Linked DNA regions of Homo sapiens: region 1 is linked to region 2. Evidence: fine-mapped expression QTL. A gene starts in region 2. The other region holds a variant in brackets. All regions are shown on one strand. Distances are from middle to middle.

Region 1 (10,327 bases), 29 kb after region 2:
TCCCTAGAAGCTGAACACATGCCAGCACCGTGCTTCCTGTAAAGCCTGCAGAGCCATGAGCCAGTCAAACCTCTTTTCTTATAAATTACCCAGTCGCAGGCATTTATAGCAATGCAAGAATGGCTTAATACAGGCACCACATTATACTTCTCATGTAACTTCTTTTTCTCAATTACAGTATTCTAATATTTGTACCAAGTAATGCCTTAGACACTAATTTTCTTTTTTTTAATGGATTAGATACAATAAGTTGTTTAAACATTTAAAGTAATGAAAGTGAAAGTAGGGTATTTCTTGCCACCATGACTATCCCAGGTGGCGGAGTGTAAGGATTAAGGACATAGGTTCTGCCCTGTCATTTGGGTACATGACCCTCCGCCAAGTTACTTACTCTTTCTGGGTATCAATCTCCTGATCTTTAAATAAATAATCATAGTAAATAGGTTAGTGGTGAGATTTTAGTCTATGTAAAACACTTTACAGTTTTTGGATTATAATACTCTCAATAAATTTTAGCTATGACAATAATAAAAAGTGATGATTTTTCTGAGCCGTGAGGACATTACAAGAGTGATGAGTGTTATGAAGGAGAAGTGTAGTGTGACGGGAACATTTACCAGAGGGGCATAACTTAAACGGGTGCATTTTAGTCTTTTTCCTTCATGGCCTTGTCAGCTGCTCCCTACCTTTTTTTTTTTTTTTAGACGGAGTCTCGCTCTGCCACCCAGGCTGGGGTGCAGTGGTATGATCTTGACTCACTGCAACCTCTACCTCCCGGGTTCAAGCAATTCTCCTGCCTCAGCCTCCTGAGTAGCTGGGACTACAGGTGCCTGCCACCATGCCTGCTAATTTTTGTATTTTTAATAGAGATGGGGTTTCACCATGTTGGCCAGGCTGGTCTTGAATTCCTGACCTCAGGTGATCCAACTGCCTCGGCCTCCCAAAGTGCTGAGATTACAGGCATGAGCCACCATGCCTGGGCTGCTGCCCTCTACTTTTGACTTTAGAAAGTGGCTGGAGAAAAGTGAATTCCTGGCACAGTTAAAAGGATGTTTACCATGATTCAGTTAGCTTGAGAAAACTGGATGAAAAGGAAGGCAAGTAGTGTGATACACGAGAGCAAGGAACAGTTAGGGAAGTGGATTAAAGGCGCTTTAAGGCAGGTTGTGCAGATTGAGGTTTAACTTTATGTTTCAATATTTGTTACTATTACATTCTATTCTTTTTGAGTAAGCAATACATTGACATAAAATCAAATATAAATGGTATGCAGTGAAAACTCCCATTCCTATCCTTGCTCTGTCTGTCTCTTTTCCTTACCACAGATAACGACTTTTTTTTTTTCCTTTCTGGAGTTATTATGTAAAAGTATAAAAAACATGAATATCTATTTTTATTCCCCCTCTTTCCTTCACAAAAGGAAGCATATTGTAACATACTCAGTTGCATTCATTACCATCTTACATCTTGCTTTTAATTTAAAAACATATTATGCAGCTTTATCAGTAACAGTAAAACGCTTCTTTTTTTATTTCTTCTCATGTACATAGTGTTTTATGATATGGATGTATCATCAGCTAACCAGTTCTTATTGATGGAGACTTGACCTGCTCTCATTTTGCTCTTACCAAAATGCTGCAATGAATAAACTTGTTCATATGTCTATATAAATAAATCTCCAGAAGTATGATTATTGGATCACAGGGTAAATAATTTTGTAATTTTTTTATTCATTCAAATATTTATTGAACAGCTAAGGAGATACAAAGGTGATTTAAAACATGGTCAGAGGTGGCCGGGCGCGGTGGCTCACGCCTGTAATCCCAGCACTTTGGGAGACCGAGGCAGGTGGATCACGAGGTCAGAAAATCGAGACCATCCTGGCTAACATGGTGAAATCCCGTCTCTACTAAAAATACAAAAAATTAGCCGGGCATGCATGCGGGCGCCTGTAGTCCCAGCTACTCGGGAGACTGAAGCAGGAGAATGGCAGGGTGAACCCAGGAGGCAGAGCTTTCAGTGAGCCGAGATCGTGCCACTGCACTCCAGCCTGGGAGACAGTGAGACTCTGTCTCAAAAAAAAAAAAAAAAAAAACATGGTCAGAGGTGATGCAAATGCACAAGTAATAGAAAGCAAAGGGCAAGGTTCACCGAATCACAGCAGTCAGAAGAAAGTGCTTTAGGGAACCAAGAGTGAGATTGTTTCCAGCCTGAAGAGGCATGGGTGGCAAATCAGAAAAGGGGATTGGGATTAAAATAGAAGACTTCAGTCTGGATTGTTGATGACACTCAGTATGGACTATATTGGTCTCTCCTTTTCCTTTCTCCCCATCTTTGGGCTTAATTTACCAGTAGTGCCCAGGACTGTTCAATGCACTTTTTCTATACTTGCTTGCATTTTTGCTCTGATGTCTTCTACAGAACTAGGTCCTTTTGGTGTTTTAGGAGTTTTTCCTGTTTTTTGAAGGAGTCTTGTCCTTTTGATCTTGGTGTTAATGATGGTTTTGAGTCTTTTCCATTCTGATTTAATTTTTGTCCTTTTTTGGCTAGAGTGTCTTGTATAGATTGCTTCACTGGTGCTTTCTCTTCAGTTCCCTCATCATCAAAATCATCATCATCTTCATCATCATCATTATCATCATCATCATCATCATCTTCATCAGCAGCAAGTTTTACTTTTTTCTGTGGAACCTTGCTACCACCTCCAGTAGCAGACCGCTTTCCAGATATACTTAAGAGTTTCACATCCTCCTCCTCTTCATCTTCTGACTCTGCATCTTCTACCACAGCTACTAAGTGCTGTCCACTAATATGCACTGGCCCTGAACCACACTTCAACTGTAAGACCACTGGTTATGTTATTTCAAATCCCCCAAGGGAAACCGTTGGCTGTACAGACATTTTCAAAGTTGCCAGTGTTACTTTAATTGGGCTGCCTTCGTAATTCATGGCCTCTGCTTCAACAATGTGCAATTCATCCTTTGCACCAGCCCCTAAACTGACCGTTCTTTTTTTTTTTTTAGACAGAGTTTCGCTTTGTCGCCCAGGCTGGAGTGCAATGGCACGATCTCGGCTCACCACAACCTCCACCTCCCGAATTCAAGTGATTCTGCTGCCTCAGCCTCCCAAGTAGCTGGGACTACAGGCATGTGCCACCATGCCCAGCTAATTTTTGTATTTTTAGTAGAGACGGGGTTTCACCATCTTGGCCAGGCTGGTCTCAAACTCCTGACCTCGTGATGCACCCACCTCAGCCTCCCAAAGTGCTGGGATTACAAGCATGAGCCACCGCGCCCAGCCTTAAACTGACCATTCTTAAAGATAACTGGTGCTCATTTTCATCATTATCCACCTTAAAGTGATAATCTTTGTTGGCCTTCAGTTCACAACCGAAAAGATAGTTCTAGGGCCTCAGGAGGCTCATGTCCATGTCCATCAAATCTTCCATCGGGTGGCAGCACGCACTTAGGTGGCAGAGAAGGGGGACAGAGATAAATGACCACTGCTCAAGAGAACAGCTGCACAGGATGGAATCACACCAGCAATTTTGTAATTTTAATAGATGTTCCCAGATTATTTTCCCTAAAGTCTGTACTTCCACCAGCAATATCCAAGAGTGCCTAGGCATTTCCCCATGGTCCCCATGCCTCACCAATTATATTTGTCAAATTTTTGTATTTTGGCCATAATGGAAAATGGTATTGAAAGGTAGTTTTAATTAGCAATTTTCATATATTTAAGAATCACTCATATTTCTATGTCTGTGAACTGATCATTCATCTGTTGGTCTTTTCCTTGTCAAATTCCAGAAACTCTTTTTACACTAGAGGGATTCACCCTTTGCTGTAATATGAGGTACAAATCCTCTCCTCCAGTTTGTTATTTCTCGTTAATCTTTATTTATATTGTTAATTTTCTTTCTATGAAGACATGTTCCCTGTTTTTGTAGTTGAAAACATCAATTGTTTTATTTATGGCTTTAGGAAGACTTTTCTACTATGATGTTATAAAAGAATTTACTGTTCTGGTACTTCTTATGACTTCATTTTTGACACTTAAGTCTTTGATGCATTGGGGAATCTATCCTGATTGACACGGTTTGAATCTATGTCCCCACTCAAATCTCACATTCAATTGTAATTCCCAGAGTTGGAGGCAGGGCCTGGTTGGAGGTGATTGAATCATAGGGGTGGATCCTCTGTGAATGATTTAGCACCATCCTCTCGGTGCTGTTCTCATGACAGGAAATGAGTGAGCTATCATGAGAACTGGTTGTTTAAAAGTATGTAGCACCACCTGCCCCCCCCAGTCTCTCTCTTGCTCTTGCTCTACCCATTTAAGACATCCCTGCTTCCCCTTCGCCTCTACCATGATTGTGTGTTTCCTGAGGCCTCTCCAGAAGCTGAGTAGTTGCCAGCATCATGCTTCCTGTACAGCCTGAGGAACTGTGAGCCAATTAAACCTTTTCTTTTTAAACCACCCAGTCTCAGGTATTTCTTTTTTTTATTTATTTTTTATTTTTTTATTGATCATTCTTGGGTGTTTCTCGCAGAGGGGGATTTGGCAGGGTCATAGGACAATAGTGGAGGGAATGTCAGCAGATAAACAAGTGAACAAAGGTCTCTGGTTTTCCTAGGCAGAGGACCCTGCGGCCTTCCGCAGTGTTTGTGCCCCTGGGTACTTAAGATCAGGGAGTGGTGATGACTCTTTTTTTTTTTTTTTTTTTTTTTTTTTTGAGACGGAGTCTCGCTCTGTGGCCCAGGCGGGAGTGCAGTGGCGCAATCTCGGCTCACTGCAAGCTCCGCCTTCCGGGTTCATGCCATTCTCCTGCCTCAGCCTCCCGAGTAGCTGGGACTACAGGCGCCCACCATCACGCCCGGCTAATTTTTTTTGTATTTTTAGTAGAGACGGGGTTTCACCGTGTTAGCCAGGATGGTCTCGATCTCCTGACCTTGTGATCCGCCCACCTCGGCCTCCCAAAGTGTTGGGATTACAAGCGTGAGCCACCGCGCCCGGCCTGGTGATGACTCTTAACGAGCATGCTGCCTTCAAGCATCTGTTTAACAAAGCACATCTTGCACCGCCCTTAATCCATTTAACCCTGAGTGGACACAGCACATGTTTCAGAGAGCACAGGGTTGGGGGTAAGGTCACAGATCAACAGGATCCCAAGGCAGAAGAATTTTTCTTAGTACAGAACAAAATGAAAAGTCTCCCATGTCTACTTCTCTCTACACAGACACGGCAACCATCCGATTTCTCAATCTTTTCCCCACCTTTCCCGCCTTTCTATTCCACAAAACCACCATTGTCATCATGGCCCGTTCTCAATGAGCTGTTGGGTACACCTCCCAGAAGGGGTGGTGGCCGGGCAGAGGGGCTCCTCACTTCCCAGTAGGGGTGGCCGGGCAGAGGCGCCCCTCACCTCCCGGA[G/C]GGGGCGGCTGGCCGGGCGGGGGGCTGACCCCCCCACCTCCCTCCCGGACGGGGAGGCTGGCCCGGCGGGGGGCTGACCCCCCACCTCCCTCCCGGACGGGGCGGCTGGCCGGGTGGGGGGCTGACCCCACCTCCCTCCCGGACGGGGCGGCTGGCCGGGTTGGGGGCTGACCCCCCCACCTCCCTCCTGGACGGGGCAGCTGGCCGGGCAGAGGGGCTCCTCACTTCCCAGTAGGGGCGGCCGGGCAGAGGCGCCCCTCACCTCCCTGACGGGGCGGCTGGCCGGGCTGGGGGCTGACCCCCCCACCTCCCTCCCGGACGGGGCGGCTGGCCTGGCAGGGGCTGACCCCCACCTCCCTCCCGGACGGGGTGGCTGCCGGGTGGAGACGCTCCTCACTTCCCAGACGGGGTGGCTGCCGGACGGAGGGGCTCCTCACTTCTCAGACAGGGCGGCTGCCAGGCAGAGGGTCTCCTCACTTCTCAGATGAGGTGGCCGGGCAGAGACGCTCCTCACCTCCCAGATGGGGTCGCGGCCGGGCAGAGGCGCTCCTCACATCCCAGACGGGGCGGCGGGGCAGAGGCGCTCCCCACATCCCAGACCATGGGTGGCCGGGCAGAGACGCTCCTCACTTCCTAGATGGGATGGCGGCGGGGAAGAGGCGCTCCTCACTTCCTAGATGGGATGGCGGCCAGGCAGAGACGCTCCTCACTTTCCAGACTGGGCAGCCAGGCAGAGGGGCTCCTCACATCCCAGACGATGGGCGGCCGGGCAGAGACGCTCCTCACTTCCTAGATGGGATGGCGGCGGGGAAGAGGCGCTCCTCACTTCCTAGGTGGGATGGCGGCCGGGCAGAGACGTTCCTCACTTTCCAGACTGGGCAGCCAGGCAGAGGGGCTCCTCACATCCCAGACAATGAGCGGCCAGGCAGAGACGCTCCTAACTTCCCAGACGGGGTGGCGGCCGGGCAGAGGCTGCAATCTCGGCTCTTTGGGAGGCCAAGGCAGGCGGCTGGGAGGTGGAGGTTGTAGCGAGCCGAGATCACGCCACTGCACTCCAGCCTGGGCACCATTGAGCACTGAGTGAACGAGACTCCGTCTGCAATCCCGGCACCTGGGGAGGCCGAGGCTGGCGGATCACTCGCGGTTAGGAGCTGGAGACCAGCCCGGCCAACACAGCGAAACCCCGTCTCCACCAAAAAAACACGACAACCAGTCAGGCGTGGCGGCGCGCGCCTGCAATCGCAGGCACTGGGCAGGCTGAGGCAGGAGAATCAGGCAGGGAGGTTGCAGTGAGCCGAGATGGCAGCAGTACAGTCCAGCTTTGGCTCGGCATCAGAGGGAGACTGTGGAAAGAGAGAGAGAGGGAGAGAGAGAGGCAGAGGGAGAGGGAGAGGGAGAGGGAGGAGAGGGAGGAGAGGGAGGAGAGGGAGAGGGCCAGTCTCAGGTATTTCTTTATAGCAATGTGAGAACAGAATAATACACTAATAAATGATGTGAGGTCTACATCTAATTTTGGTAGTTGGCCACACAAGTCTCCCAGAATAATTTTATTGAACAGTCCATCTTTTTTGGCCAGGTGCCGTGGCTTGTGCGTGTAATCCCAGCACTTTGGGAGGCCGAGGCAGGAGGATCTCAAGCTCAGGAGTTTGAGACTACCCTGGGCAACACGGCTAAACCCCGTCTCTCCAGAAAATATAAAAATTAGCCAGGCATGGTGGTGTGTGCCTGTAGTCCCAGCTACTTGGGAGGCTGAGGTGGGAAGATCACTTGAGCCCAGGAGGCAGAGGTTGCAGAGAGCTGAGATTGTGCCAGTGCATTCCAGCCTAGGCAACAGAGCCAGACCCTGTCTCCAAAAAAAAAAAAAAAAAAAAAAGAAAAAGAAGAAAAAAAGAAAGTCCATCTTTTCTCCACTGACTCAAGACACCATCTTTATTGCAGACAGAATTCCCATATGTGCTTGTGACTGACTTCTTGGACTTCTATTCTGTGTATTTTAATTTTAATTTTAATTTTAATTTAATTTTTTTTTGAGACAGAGTCTCACTCTGTCACCCAGGCTGGAGTGCAGTGGCACGATCTTGGCTCACTGCAACCTCTGCCTCCCAGATTCAAGCAATTCTCGTGCCTCAGCCTTCTGAGTAGCTGGGATTACAAGGGCCCACCACCATGCCTGGCTAGTTGTCATATTTTTAGTAGAGACAGGGTTTCACCATGTTGGCCAGGCTGGTCTCAAACTCCTGGCCTCAAGTAATCTGCCCACCTCGGCCTCCCAGAGTGCTGAGATAACAGAGGTGAATCACCATGGCTGACCTATTCTCTTGAAATGGTCTGTCTATTCATATATCATGCCACAATATTTTTATTATCTAGGTTTTATAGAACATATTAATATCTGATAGAGCTAGTGCTCCCTCATTGCCTGTCTCTTTCTGAACTTTCTTGATCTTTTTAAACAAATAAATTCTTTAACATAAATTTTATGGCCAGGAGCGGTGGCTCACACCAGTAATCCCAGCACTTTGGGAGGCCGAGGCGGGTGATCAGTTGAGGTCAGGAGTTTGAGACCAGCCTGGCCAACGTGGTGAAACACCGTCTCTACTAAAAATACAAAAATTAGCTGGGTGTGATAGTGTGGACCTGAAATCCCAGCTACTCAGGAGGCTGACGCAGGAGGCAGAGGTTGCGTGAGCCGAGATCGCACTGCTGCACTCCAGCCTGGGCGACAGAGTGAGACCCCGTCTCAAAAAAAAAAATTTACAGTCAGCTTGTCTCATTTCCAAATTAAACACATCAGTTTTATATTTATATATAAATACTAGTTTATATTACTTTATATATAAAATTGGAATTGTTTTAAATATATGTTAACTTAGGGCGAATAGTCATCTTTATGGCAAATCTTTATTCAAGTATATAGCAGTCTTTTCATTTCTTTGAGGCCTCTTATATACCTTTCTAGTATTTTTAAGATTTTGCCCTAAAGATTTTGCACGTTTTTATTAAGCTTTAACTAGGTATTTTTATTTTTTAGTTTGAAATAATTTCAAACTTACAGAAAAGTTGCAACGGTAATACAAAGATCTCCCAAATTCTCCTTGTCAGGGCTCTGAGCCCAAGCCAAGCCATCGTATCCCCTGTGACCTGCACGTATACATCCAGATGGCCTGAAGAATCACAAAAGAAGTGAAAATGGCCAGTTCTGATGACGTTCCACCATTGTGATTTGTTCCTGCCCCACCTTAACTGAGCGATTAACCTTGTGAAATTCCTTCTCCTCGCTCAGAACCTCCCCCACTGAGCACCTTGTGACCCCCGCCCCTACCTGGAAGAGAAAAACCCCCTTTGACTATAATTTTCCACTGCCCACCCAAATCCTATAAAACAGCCCCACCCCTATCTCCCTTCGCTAACTCTCTTTTCGGACTCAGCCTGCCTGCACCCAGGTGAAATAAACAGCCTTGTTGCTCACACAAAGCCTGTTTGGTGGTCTCTTCACACTGATGCACGTGACCCTCCTCATTCAGCAATGGTTCCCCGATTGTTAAATTTGACATTTACTTTATTCTTTCTACATACAATTATTTCTTATTCTGAATCATTTGAGAGTAAGTTGAAGACATAATACCTTATTACTCTTTTAGCATTTCACTGAGTATTTCCTAAAAACAATGGCTTTCTCCAACATAACTGCAGTGTAACTATCAAAATCAAGAAATTTTGTTATAATACTCCCGTGTAATCTAGAGATCTCATTTAAATGCATCAGTTGTCCTAATAATGTTTGTTATAGGACCACAATCCAATCCTGGATTATGTGTTGGACTGGGTTGTCATGTCCTTTTATATGGAACAGTTCCTCAGTCTTTCCTTGTCTTTTATGACCTTGATACTTCTGACATGAGCAGGCCAATTTGAGTGTATAATTGTTTCCTCTTGATTTGGGTAAGGTTATATGTCTTTTGCAGGACTACCACAGAAGTGGTGCTATGTTCTTCTCAGTGCGTCATATCAGGAGGCACGTAATGTTTGTCAGTTTGCCCCATTACTGGTGATATTATCTTGAGTAAGATACCTTTCTGTATATCTGTCTACATCACTTGTAAGATAATGTCAGTATGACTTCTTCACTGTAAGGATAATTATTTTGTGCTTATTTGCAATTAATATTTGTTGGTATTCTATTGTAAGGTAGAGCTTTCCTTTCTCCAACATTTATTTATATAATTATTTATATCATTATGGATTCCTATTTCCTTCATTATGACTATTCATTTCTAATTGATTTACCATCATTAATCATTTTAATGCTAAAATTATCTCAGGTCAGCCAGTAGGAGATCATTCAAGCCAGCTCCTGTGTCCTTATAACAGGTGTCTATCATTCCTGAGCATTTCTTTATTTGGAGGCACAAGATGTTCTGGTTCATTTTGTATTTTCCCTGCTCTGGAATCGCCATTTCTCCAAGAGGCCCTGGTTTCCTCCTGTTGTGAATAAAAATTCAGAAACTAAAAAGTCAGAATTCAGAACTAAAGTTTGGTGTTAATCTGCTCCAGAGTGTCATTACTTTAGGTCCTGTCAAAGGACAGAGCTAGGAAATACATGTATGTGCGTACACACACACACAGACCCACACACATTAATGTCTGTTAGTATATCTATCCCTATCTCTCCTTTCATCTACCTCTATTAAAAACTACATGTTCATACTGATACTTCTAAACTCAATCTGACATTTCCTATTTCAATTTCAGTAGGGTTTATTCTAGACTTCCTCATTTCTATACTTGTAACTTCCTTTTCTAACAGTTACAAATCCTGGCTCCCATTCTCCTTGATGTATTTTCTTACTTGTTTAATCCTTCTGTATATGACTAATGTCCCCACCATATTAGC
Region 2 (10,327 bases):
AGCATAACTACTTACATACCATTTACATTGTATTAGGTATTACAAGTAATCTAGAGATGACAAATTATACAGGATGCCATAGATTATATGCAAATACTATGCCATTTTATATCAGGGACTTGAACTTCCTCAATTTTGGTATTCAAGAGAGGTACTGAACTGATCCCCCACAGATACTTAGGAAACACTGTAATTCAATGCAGTATCGTGGGCCAGCTAGAGCACATCCTGTATCAGTGAGAGAAATCTATTCCCTTAACAAGTTAGTCTTGGTTTCTTTGGAAAATGTCTCCCAGAGACAGTGAACACCCATATATGCATTTGAGATAGATACTATTAGTATCCTCATTTGGCACATAACTGAGGCTCAAAGTCAAGTAACTTGATCGTCTCCATAACCAAGTAACTAATTTTGGAGCCATCTGTCTGACTGCATGGCTAGAGATTCTACTTCTGTACTCTTGCCTGTTCATTTTACATCCACAGAGCATACACACAGGCACTCTACGGATGTCATGTGAAGAAATCTAATCCAGTCTGGGTATAGTGGCTCTTGCCTATAACCCTAGCACTATGGGAGGCCGAGGAGGGTGGATCGCCTGAGCATAGGAGTTTGAGACCAGCCTGGGCAACATGGCAAGACCCCATCTCCACAAAAAAAGCCAGGCCAAGCGTCAAGGTGTGAGCCTGTAGTCCCAGCTACTTGAGGTTGAGGCAGGAGGATCGGTTCAGCCAGGGAGTTGAAGGCTGCAGCGAGCCATGTTCGCACGACTGCACTCCAACCTGGGTGACACAGCGAGACTGTTTCCATTTAAATTCAAAAAAAAAAAAAAAAAATTCTGACCCAGCAATGAACAGCCATGGTGGTTTCTGTTCCCTTGGTTATTGCTAGCTTACATTTCTACACCAGAAGCAGTGCTCTGCAAATCCAAATAGAGTAAGCACTGCAGAGATATCCTATTTTCAACCTTCCTTTAACTCCCATCCATACAAGATGGCCTGTTAACTTGCATAGAATTATTGGCATCATTACCACTATTTAATCTATCCTGAATTCCCTATATTCAAAGGCCCTGCAGTTTTATTTCCATGCAGGTATTTTTAAGTGTTTGAGAAATTGAAGATAACAGCAGTTTCAAATTTTTTAGTGCTATTTTAGCTGTAATACAGGTTCTCAATTACGTATAGCTTTAATCCAACACTTTAACCATTGTGAAAAAACACAACTGCTCATGTTCACAATTCCGTGAAAGCCATGAAGCTGTCCTTCCACTATTTTCTGATTTACTGAAGTGTATTTTTCACAGTATATGTTCTCTGGACTTTAGTGACATTTTTTTCAGAATTTCATTTCCTCAGTCAGTTCTCAAGACATGTGTGCTCTAAAGACTGCTATGCTGCACTAAAAGTTCATAGGTATTTGTCTGGGGGCCACGTATTGATAGGTATTCCATTTTAAAATGGTCTTATTAACTGATAGCTAAACAGCTCCCAAAGATCAACTGTTTGGTTTAAATTTAGCAATGTGGCATAATTCATTCCAGACTCAGTTCCATTCAAATCCTTGATGTTAACTGGGTTTGTCTTGAGATCTGAAGTAGACTCAGAAGGAATTGGATGTTGGGTAACAGCAGTAGGGGAGGGGCAAGGGGTGACTCCAGTTTGAACTGTGAGACTTCAGTAGACAATGGATTCAGACTAGGAACACAGGACAGAGCTTCTGGGAGGGAAGATTTCATTTTAGACACATTAGCTTTTCAGCTGTGGGTTGCAGGTGCCTAGCATGCAGTTGGTTGTATACAGAAATCTCAACTGAAGGTCAATTTGAAAAGATAGCAGAGTTCAGCGTGAAAGCCTAGGCCCAAATCCAAAAAGAAAAAACTTGAATTACCCAACTTTGATCCTATTAAAAATTTCAAAAATTTTCTGAAGGCAATCTTAACAATTTGTAGATGTTCCATTTTTCCACAATAAATCTATAGAAACTTTCCCCAATAAGTTTAGCAAACCTGTAAGGGTATCTATCTGATTTTAAATTCTAGGCTGGGTACAGTGGCTCACTCCTGTAACACCAGCAGTTTAGTAGGCTAACACAGGCTGATGGTTTGAGTCTTCAGAGTTCCAGACCAGCCTGGGCAACATGGCAAAACCTCACCTCTACAAAAAACAATTAGCTGGGCATGGTAGCCACATGCTTGTTAAGTCCCAGCTACTAGGCAGTTTGAGGTGGATTGCATGAGCCCAGGTCAAGGCTGCAGTGATCACACCACTGCACTCCAGCCTGGACTGCAGAGACCCTGTCTAAAACACTGAAAATATAAGTATTTTTAAAAAATGTAAAAGTGAAAATGGGCCAGGCATGGTGGCTCATGCCTGTAATCCCAGCACTTTGGGAGGCTGAGGCAGGTGGATCACCTGAGGTCAGGAGTTTGAGACCAGCCTGAACAACAGGACAAAACCCCATCTCTACTATAAAATAAAAAATTAACCAGGCTTGGTCGCAGGCACTTGTAATCCCAACTACTTGGGAGGCTGAGGCAGGAGAATTGCTTGAACCTGGGAGGCAGAGGTTGCAGTGAGCCAAGAACACACCACTGCACTCCAGCCTGGGCCACAGAGCAAAACGCCGTCCCCCCCCCCAAAAAAAAAAAGTGAAAATTTTATATTTAAAATATAAAACACTGAAAATATAAGTATTTTTAAACTAAGTTTTAGTTCCTAAAACCCTAAAACTTAGTTTTAGTCCTGCCTCTGCCACTTAATCCTTTTTTAAGGACGTTAAACTTGGTTAATTTAAAAATATTAGTTACTAGCTTTTTAACACGTGCCTACTAGCGCACTAGGTTCTCAACCATGGGTGTGCATTACAAACGCCCCAGAAACCTTAACACCCCATACCAATCAGAATTTATCTAGAGTATGCCAAAGTTATAAACTGCCAGTGTCCAATAAAACCAGTCAGGTCTCACATATTATGTAGTTAACGGAATCCAGTTTTCAAATGACTCAAACGACAACGAAAACAGGATAGACCACTCTAAGATACCCATATATTCCACCTGAAAAGTGGAAGTCTCATAGTACACCTTTATATTCCTAAAATCTGCCAGTATTCTGAATAAAAACCAACAGAAGTTAACAACTGGTCATCAATTTATTAAAATAGTTGACTTAAGCATCTGCAATGGTGACTTCCACCTCAACTCCTGGCTCAATACTGATGGAAGTAATCTGCTTAACAATCTCAGAAGGACTGTGCAAGTCAATGAGTCGCTTGTGAATTCTCATCTGGAAACGATCCCACGTCTTAGAACCTTCACCACAAGGAGTTTTTCTTGTAGTGATTCTCAAAGTCTGTAACAAAAGACAAAGGAAACCAAGTGTTTATCGTTTTATACTTATCCCTAGAACATCTGGAAAATCATTACTTCTAATCATTTCATTAGTTTCCCTTTGGTATGATTCCAATTTACACTAATAGATTTTCAGGTACCATGGGTTGAAAATGCCAGGTCTGTTTTCACTGTGCTAGGACACCACCCTTAGAGCTTGCGCCTGTTAAGCACCAAAGCACACCAAGAACACAGCAACAATAATTCAACAATCATATCTAAACATTAGCTACTTACTAGGAACCGCAATCTACCACCGATTTCTATGTGCGTTTGTAGACAGCATCAGTGTTAACAATTTTGGCAGCCGAACTCCTTAAAGAACCTGAATTTATGCAACATCCGGAAGCAACTCCTACTTCCTGCCCCTCCGATTTACTTTACCTTGGTAGGCATTCGAACTGGTCCTTTCACTTTGAGATTCTTTTCTTTTGCGCCTCTTATCAAGTCAGCACACACTACAGGAAATAAAAGACCTCTCAGTATAATCGAAACAATTAAAATCGGCTTAAGGCCTTCACTTCTGCTGGCTCAGAATAGCGTATAAAATTATCACCGTTACTCAACACAATAGGTACCTCCTCATCGCCAGCTGTATGACAGTAAAAGCAATTTTAAGCCACGCTTTACTTTTTTAAGTAACTTGTCACTTTAGTTCTTGCAGTCCACCTTCTACACTAACATTAACGAGTAAAGCTCGTCGCTTTTCGCCCAATTCCCCCTCCCCCCCGCATAACGAATGCACTGACCCTTTTCCAAGGATTTTACGTTGCGGCTTGTTAGGGTGATTCGAATTCGGTGAATTGCCACCTCCGGCTCCACGGGTGTTTTTCCGGTATCCTTAAAAGCCTATTATTAGATACATGAAAAAGAACAATAAGCCAAAAATGGTCTGCCACTTCTGGAGAAAGGCAGCTTCCGGAAGCTTCCCGCGTTTCCCCACCATTTCAGGAGCGCCTTTCCGCCCCTACACGCCCCGGCATCTGCCCTCAGGAGCACGAACTCGAAACCGGGGTCCCCCCGGCGCCCGAGCCCTGCGTTGCGCCGCCCGCCGCCGACTGCCGCCTCACCATGGCTGTTGCGCGCGGGCTTCCTGACCGACTTGTTCCTCGGCGAGAGCGAACAGCGGTGAGTCAGGAGCAGGAGCGTGCGGACCAAAAATCCTCAGCCCTTACGACCGCGTCTTCCTCAAAAAGAAAGGGGTGGGACTTGAGCAACGCTTATATAGCACGCTTGCATCCGGGTCCCACACGCCCCGGAACAGGAAATATCCCGGGCCCTAGAGGCGGTCGCACAAGGGCGAGCTGGAGCACTAGTGGAGTTGGCGGGAAAGGCACGGCTGCGGGCGCCCCCTGTCCGCACGGAGGAGCCGAAGTCCCGCAGGGTGGGGTCCCCGCCTGCGCCGAGAGGGCCACCTGGTCGAGAGAACAGGCGACACGGAAACCTGAGAAACTCCTCTGTCTGGTGCACCTAACCCTCTTCCTCATAAAGTGCACACGAACTCTGGTTTTTCCGTTGCAAATTTTGCTTTCTACATAGACCATACCATTCGTTGCTCTCTGAGGATGAGGTAACTTCTCTGAGCTTAGCTGACATGAGCATTGGCAGAAATGCTTCTCGTAATCTGGATAACTTACGTTAGAATTAGTAAGCAGTTATTTTTCATAGCCTGAAACGTCCTGTTGTGATATTTCAGCTCCTGGCTTCCCAGTCCAGCAGAAGTATCTACATCTATTTCTGGAAAGGACCTGAACTTGGCTTCTCGTCCTTCTGGAAAGTGAGGCGAAAATGCCAGGCTGCGCAGCTATCCTGAGGCCCGGCCTGGAACCTGGCTAGCCACCCAGTCCTGATACCTCATCTCCTTTCTGTTGGATAAAGTCATTGGATAAGATCCCCCAGGGTCTTCTTAATACTGAACATCTGTTCATAATCACATAAGTGACCAAGTATAGTGGAAAACCCGAATGGTCAACTGAGCTGAGCAGTGGGAGAGAGCGCAGGGTGAGCTCACCTACACCTGAGCAAGAAGCCGGGGCTAAATACGTGGAAATCACTGAGATGGATTTTGATACAGGGCAGAAAGAAGAGTAAAATCATCTCATATTACTTTCCACCTGAAGCTCTGAGCCGAAAGAGTTATTTGCTCAAACACTCTGAAATGGGGAGGGACAGAGCTCTGACCCCTCCGTCCAGGCCTGTTTGTTGTTTTTTTTTTTTGTTTGTTTTGTTTTTTTTTTTTTGTGAGACGGAGTTTCATTCTTGTTGCCCAGGCTGGAGTGCCATGGCGCGATCTCGGCTCACCGCAAACTCCGCCTCCTGGGTTCAAGCGATTCTCCTGCCTCAGCCTCCGGAGTAGCTGGGATTACAGGCATGCGCCACCATGCCCGGCTAATTTTTTTTTTTTTTTTTTTTTTTTTAGTAGAGACGGGGTTTCTCCATGTTGATCATGCTGGTCTCAAACTCCAGATCTCAGGCCCGCCTCGGCCTCCCAAAGTGCTGGGATTACAGGCGTGAGCCACCGCGCTCGCCCCGTCAGGACTCTTTCTTGAGGTTTTGTCTTCTGTTCCTTGGTAGGAAATTATGTTTGAAACTTTAATCAAATAATAGCATTGTCTTATTTGGTGATAATTGGAACATAACTAATAACTGGGTTTCTTTGGCTCACGATACGTATGAGGTTTTTTGCTGCCATTTTAACAATTATTTTAAATTTTCAAATTTGGATGTTTTCCAGTTCAGTTTTTTGGGTTTTTTGTTTGTTTGTTTTTTGAGATGGAGTCTCGCTCTGTCGCCGAGGCTGGATGCAGTGGCACGATTTTGGCTCCCCGCAACCTCCACCTCCTGGGTTCAAGCAATTCTCCTGCCTCAGCCTCCCGAGTAGCTGGGACCACAGGCACGTGGCACCACTCTCAGCTAATTTTTTGTGTTTTTACTAGAGACGGTGTTTCACCGTGTTAGCCAGGATGGTCTCAATCTCCTGAACTCGCGATCTGCCTGCCTTGGCCTCCCAAAGTGCTGGGATTACAGGTGTGAGCCACCTATCCCGGCCCCAGTTCAGTTATTTTTAAATGTAATCCATTGTCTGTAAATACTCTCTTAGTAGAATTTTCAGCAGAAATTCTGAAAACCTGCATTCTTATTGTGCTAGCTGTAACCTGAGACTTCATAACTTAGAGGTTTAACTTATTGGTATGGCTGTGTGCGACAAATAGACAAAAGCACAATTGCCCTGCTCCCTGGGGTGTGATCAGCCACCGCTGTAGTACTGCCTGGAGGTGACTGTGCATATTTTAAGTGAACATATACAGCGGCATTCATGTTTTACTAATGCTCAAAGATGACTGGAAATTCAATGAAGGAATTTCATTGAGAAGTACAATTGTAATTTTGTACAAGTGTGATTTTTTTTTTATAACAAATCTGGTACATCTTTTTCTTAGGCTTACCTCATCCTTTAAGTATTTGAGGAACTGGTGAACAAGTTAACTACTTTGATAGTAAACGAGGAAATTTCTTTATAGAGAAAAGCAAAATGTGGCCCAGCAGGTATGTGAAAAATGGCTGATGTGACTAGAACTAAGGAAACAAATGGTTAAGATAATATTAGACAAAAGTAATGGAAATTTTTTTTTTTTGGAAAACAGTATGGAGGGTCCTCAAAAAATTAAAAATGGAACTTCCATGTGAACCAGCCATCCCACTTCTGGGTATATACCCAAAGAAAATGAAATTGGTATCTAGAAGAGATACCTGCACTCCCATGTTTATTGCAGCATTATTTACAGTAGCTAAGGTCAGGAAATGACCTAGGTGTCCAGCAACAGATGAATGGATCTTTTTTTTCTTTGGAAACAGAGTCTTACTCTGTTGCTCAGGCTGGAGCGCAGTGGTGCGATCTCGGCACACTGCAACCTCCACCTCCTGGGTTCAAGCAATCCTCCTGCCTCAGCCTCCCAAGTAGCTGGAAGTTCAGGCAGGCACCACCATGCCCGGCTAATTTTTGTATTTTCGGTAGAGACGAGGTTTCACCATGTTGGCCAGGCTGGTCTTGAACTCCTGACCTCAGGTTATCTGCCCACCTCAGCCTTCCAAAGTGCTAGGATTACAGGTGTGAGCCACCGTGCCCAGCCTGAATGGATCAATATTATTCAGCCTTAAAAAAGAAGGAAATTCTGGCCGGGAATGGTGGCTCACACCTGTAATCCTAGCCTTTGGGAGGCTGAGGCGGGTAGGTCACCTGGAGTCAGAAGCTCGAGATCGGCCTGGCCAACATGGTGAAACCCTGTCTCTACTAAAGATAAATATACTGTGTGAGTTCACTTATATGTGGAGTCAAAAAAAGTCAAATTTGTAGAAGCAGACAGTAGACTACTAGAGTCAGGAGGTGGGATCTAGTGAGGTTTGGGAATTTTAAAGTTTATTAGTTTTAGTTTCAAACACTTTGCCGTATTTTTCTCTTGAAAACTAGCAGCTTCTGTGGCCCCCAATTTCTCTTTGAAATGTTATGTTTGGGCCAGACGCGGTGGCTCACACCTGTAATCCCAGTACTTTGGGAGGTCGAGGTGGGTGGATCACCTGACATCGGAGTTCGAGACCAGCCTGACCAACGTGCTGAAAACCTGTCTCTACTAAAATACAAAAATTAGCCGGGTGTGGTGGCGGGCTCCTGTAATCTAAGCTACTCGGGAGGCTGAGGCAGGAGAATCGCTTGAACCCAGGAGGCAGAGGTTGCAGTGAGCCGAGATCGTGCCATTGCACTCCAGACTGGGCAACAAGAGCGAAACTCCATCTCAAAAAAAAAAAAAAAGTTATGTTTGAATACTAGATGTGAGATATCCATTGGAGAAAAAAGTAACAACAATAAGCCAAAAATAAGAAGAAAATACATAATTCCATCATTCAATGTATGTTTCTTTTCTTTTCTTTTTTTTTTGAGGAGTCAGTCTTGCTCTGTTGCCCAGGCTGGAGTGCAGTGGTATGATCGCAGCTCATTGCAACCTCTGCCTCCCAGGTTCAAGTGATTCTCCTGCCTCAGCCTCCCGAGTAGCTGGGATTACAGGTACCCACCACCACGTCCGGCTAACTTTTGTATTTCAGGTGAGACAGTGTTTTGCCATGTTGGCTAGGCTGGTCTCGAACTCCTGACCTCAGGTGATCCACTGGCCTTGGCCTCTCAAAGTGCTGGGATTACAGGCATGAGCCACCACGCCAGGCCAACATGTCTTTTAATGACGGTGTTATCATGAATTGTATGAATGATTCTTTTAGGATTTGTTGAACCTGTCTTCTGTTTTTAGGCATTTAGGCTGGTTTTCCCATTTTGCAGTCTATAAACAATATCATGAGGTAAATCCTGGTAGATCAGGGTTTCTCAATCTCAGCACAATGGACATTTTGGGGGCCGGATAATTCTTTGCTTTGGGGGACTGTCCTACGCATTTAGGAGGTTTGGCGACATTTCTGGCCTCTATACTCACTAGGTGCTAGGAGCAACCCCACTCCTCCACTGGTGACAATCAAACATGCCTCCAGACATTGTCAACAGTCCCTGTGGGTAAAAATAATGCCCGGTTGAGAGCCACTATTGTAGATGAATATTTTAGCTCCTACTTAATGCCTTAGGTCAATTACTAAATAACTTATCCTCTGATGGCTTAATCAAAGAATAAGCACATTTAAAATACTTTGGTATTAAGTAAGTTGCCTTCTGGGAAGGTTGTACCCAAACAGATATTTCCTCCAACAGCCGAATGAGGATTTCGGTGTGAAAAACATTGAATTAGATAGCAGGTTCATTTTAACTTTTGAAATATTCCTAACAACTTTATGAAATTTGTGTTTTCAATATCCCTATGTATAGCCTTTCTTTACTAATTTTTGCAGATCTTTTAAAATTATCTTGTAAAGACAATTATCTTGTAAAGACAATTATCTTGTAAATACTGCAGGTATTTGTGTGGGTCTGTGGATGGCCATCTACTGGTCTTTCACTGCAATGACAGTGTCATCCTACTTTCTCCAAAAGGAAATTTACAGCAGTCAAAAACTACTGAATTCATGGTACACATGTGTAAATGTCTGAATCACATTGAAAAAGGCAAATTGTGGAATGAATGTGGATGAGTCTGTTTAGACACAACAGTAGTCCCCACCTTATCCCTGGTTTCACATTCTGAGGTTTCAGTTACCTGCAGCACAGTTCAATAAGATACTTTGAAATCAGAGAGACCACATTCACATAATTTTATTACAGTATATGACTACCATTGTCCTATTTTATTATTAAAGTATAATAAAATATTATTAATCTCTTCATGTACCTAACTTATAAATTAAACTTTATCATAGGTATGTATGTACAGGAACAAACGTAGTATATATAGAGTTTGGTTCTATCTGTGGTTTCAGGCACCCAGGGTGTCTTGGCACCAGCTCTGTGGATAAGGAGAAACTCCTGTATTTTATTTGTGGAATTTAAAAATCTAAATACAACATTTGTATGTTAAACTTCTTCAGTCTGAAATGCTTTCAGCCATCTACTGGGGAGCTTGGCACTACCTCTGTGGATAAGGGGGAACTCCTGTATTTTATTTGCAGAATTTTTTATCTAAATACATATTTTTTGTGTTAAACTTCTTCAGTCTGAAATTTAAGAATAAAAACCAGAGAGAGTATGTGAAGATTTAGAACGTTACTCGGCATATGAGAGTAGCTAGCACCAGGCCAGGTGCGGTGGCTCATGCTTGTAGTCCCAGCGCTTTGGGAGGCTGAGGCAGGTGGATCACTTGAGGCCAGGAGTTCTAGACCAGTCTGGCCAACATGGTTAAACCCCATCTCTACTGAAAGTACAAAAATTAGCCAGGTGTGGTGGTGCACACCTGTAGTCCTGGCTACTTGGGAGGCTGAGGCATGAAAATTGCCTGCCTGGGAGGTGA

Direction of the effects. Alleles are on the strand shown, and positions count from the first base shown. SD is a standard deviation of normalised expression in the study named.
In carriers of allele G in region 1, the expression in testis of the gene that starts at base 4,588 in region 2 tends to be lower than with C alone (moderate effect, 0.41 SD a copy in GTEx).

The links. PIP is the estimated chance that this variant, and not a neighbour inherited with it, causes the effect.
Region 1: its variant is the best candidate, but not a certain one, in a credible set for the expression of RPS20 in testis (GTEx, PIP 0.52).

What each region holds. Positions count from the first base shown.
Region 1 is chr8:56,098,820-56,109,146 of GRCh38, forward strand. It overlaps the pseudogene NPM1P21. Among named protein-coding and RNA genes, the nearest start is that of MOS, 10 kb to the right of the region's middle. The variant G/C (reference allele first, on the strand shown) is at 5,434.
Region 2 is chr8:56,069,919-56,080,245 of GRCh38, forward strand. It overlaps RPS20 (ribosomal protein S20), which reads right to left and starts at 4,588. Exons shown (of 4, transcript NM_001023.4): 1 at 4,463-4,588; 2 at 4,142-4,241; 3 at 3,777-3,850; 4 at 3,136-3,354. The coding sequence starts at 4,465. The coding sequence ends at 3,172. It overlaps SNORD54 (small nucleolar RNA, C/D box 54), which reads right to left and starts at 3,983; the gene lies at 3,921-3,983. It overlaps CERNA3 (competing endogenous lncRNA 3 for miR-645), which reads left to right and starts at 4,674. Exons shown (of 2, transcript NR_149110.1): 1 at 4,674-4,962; 2 at 5,089-5,356.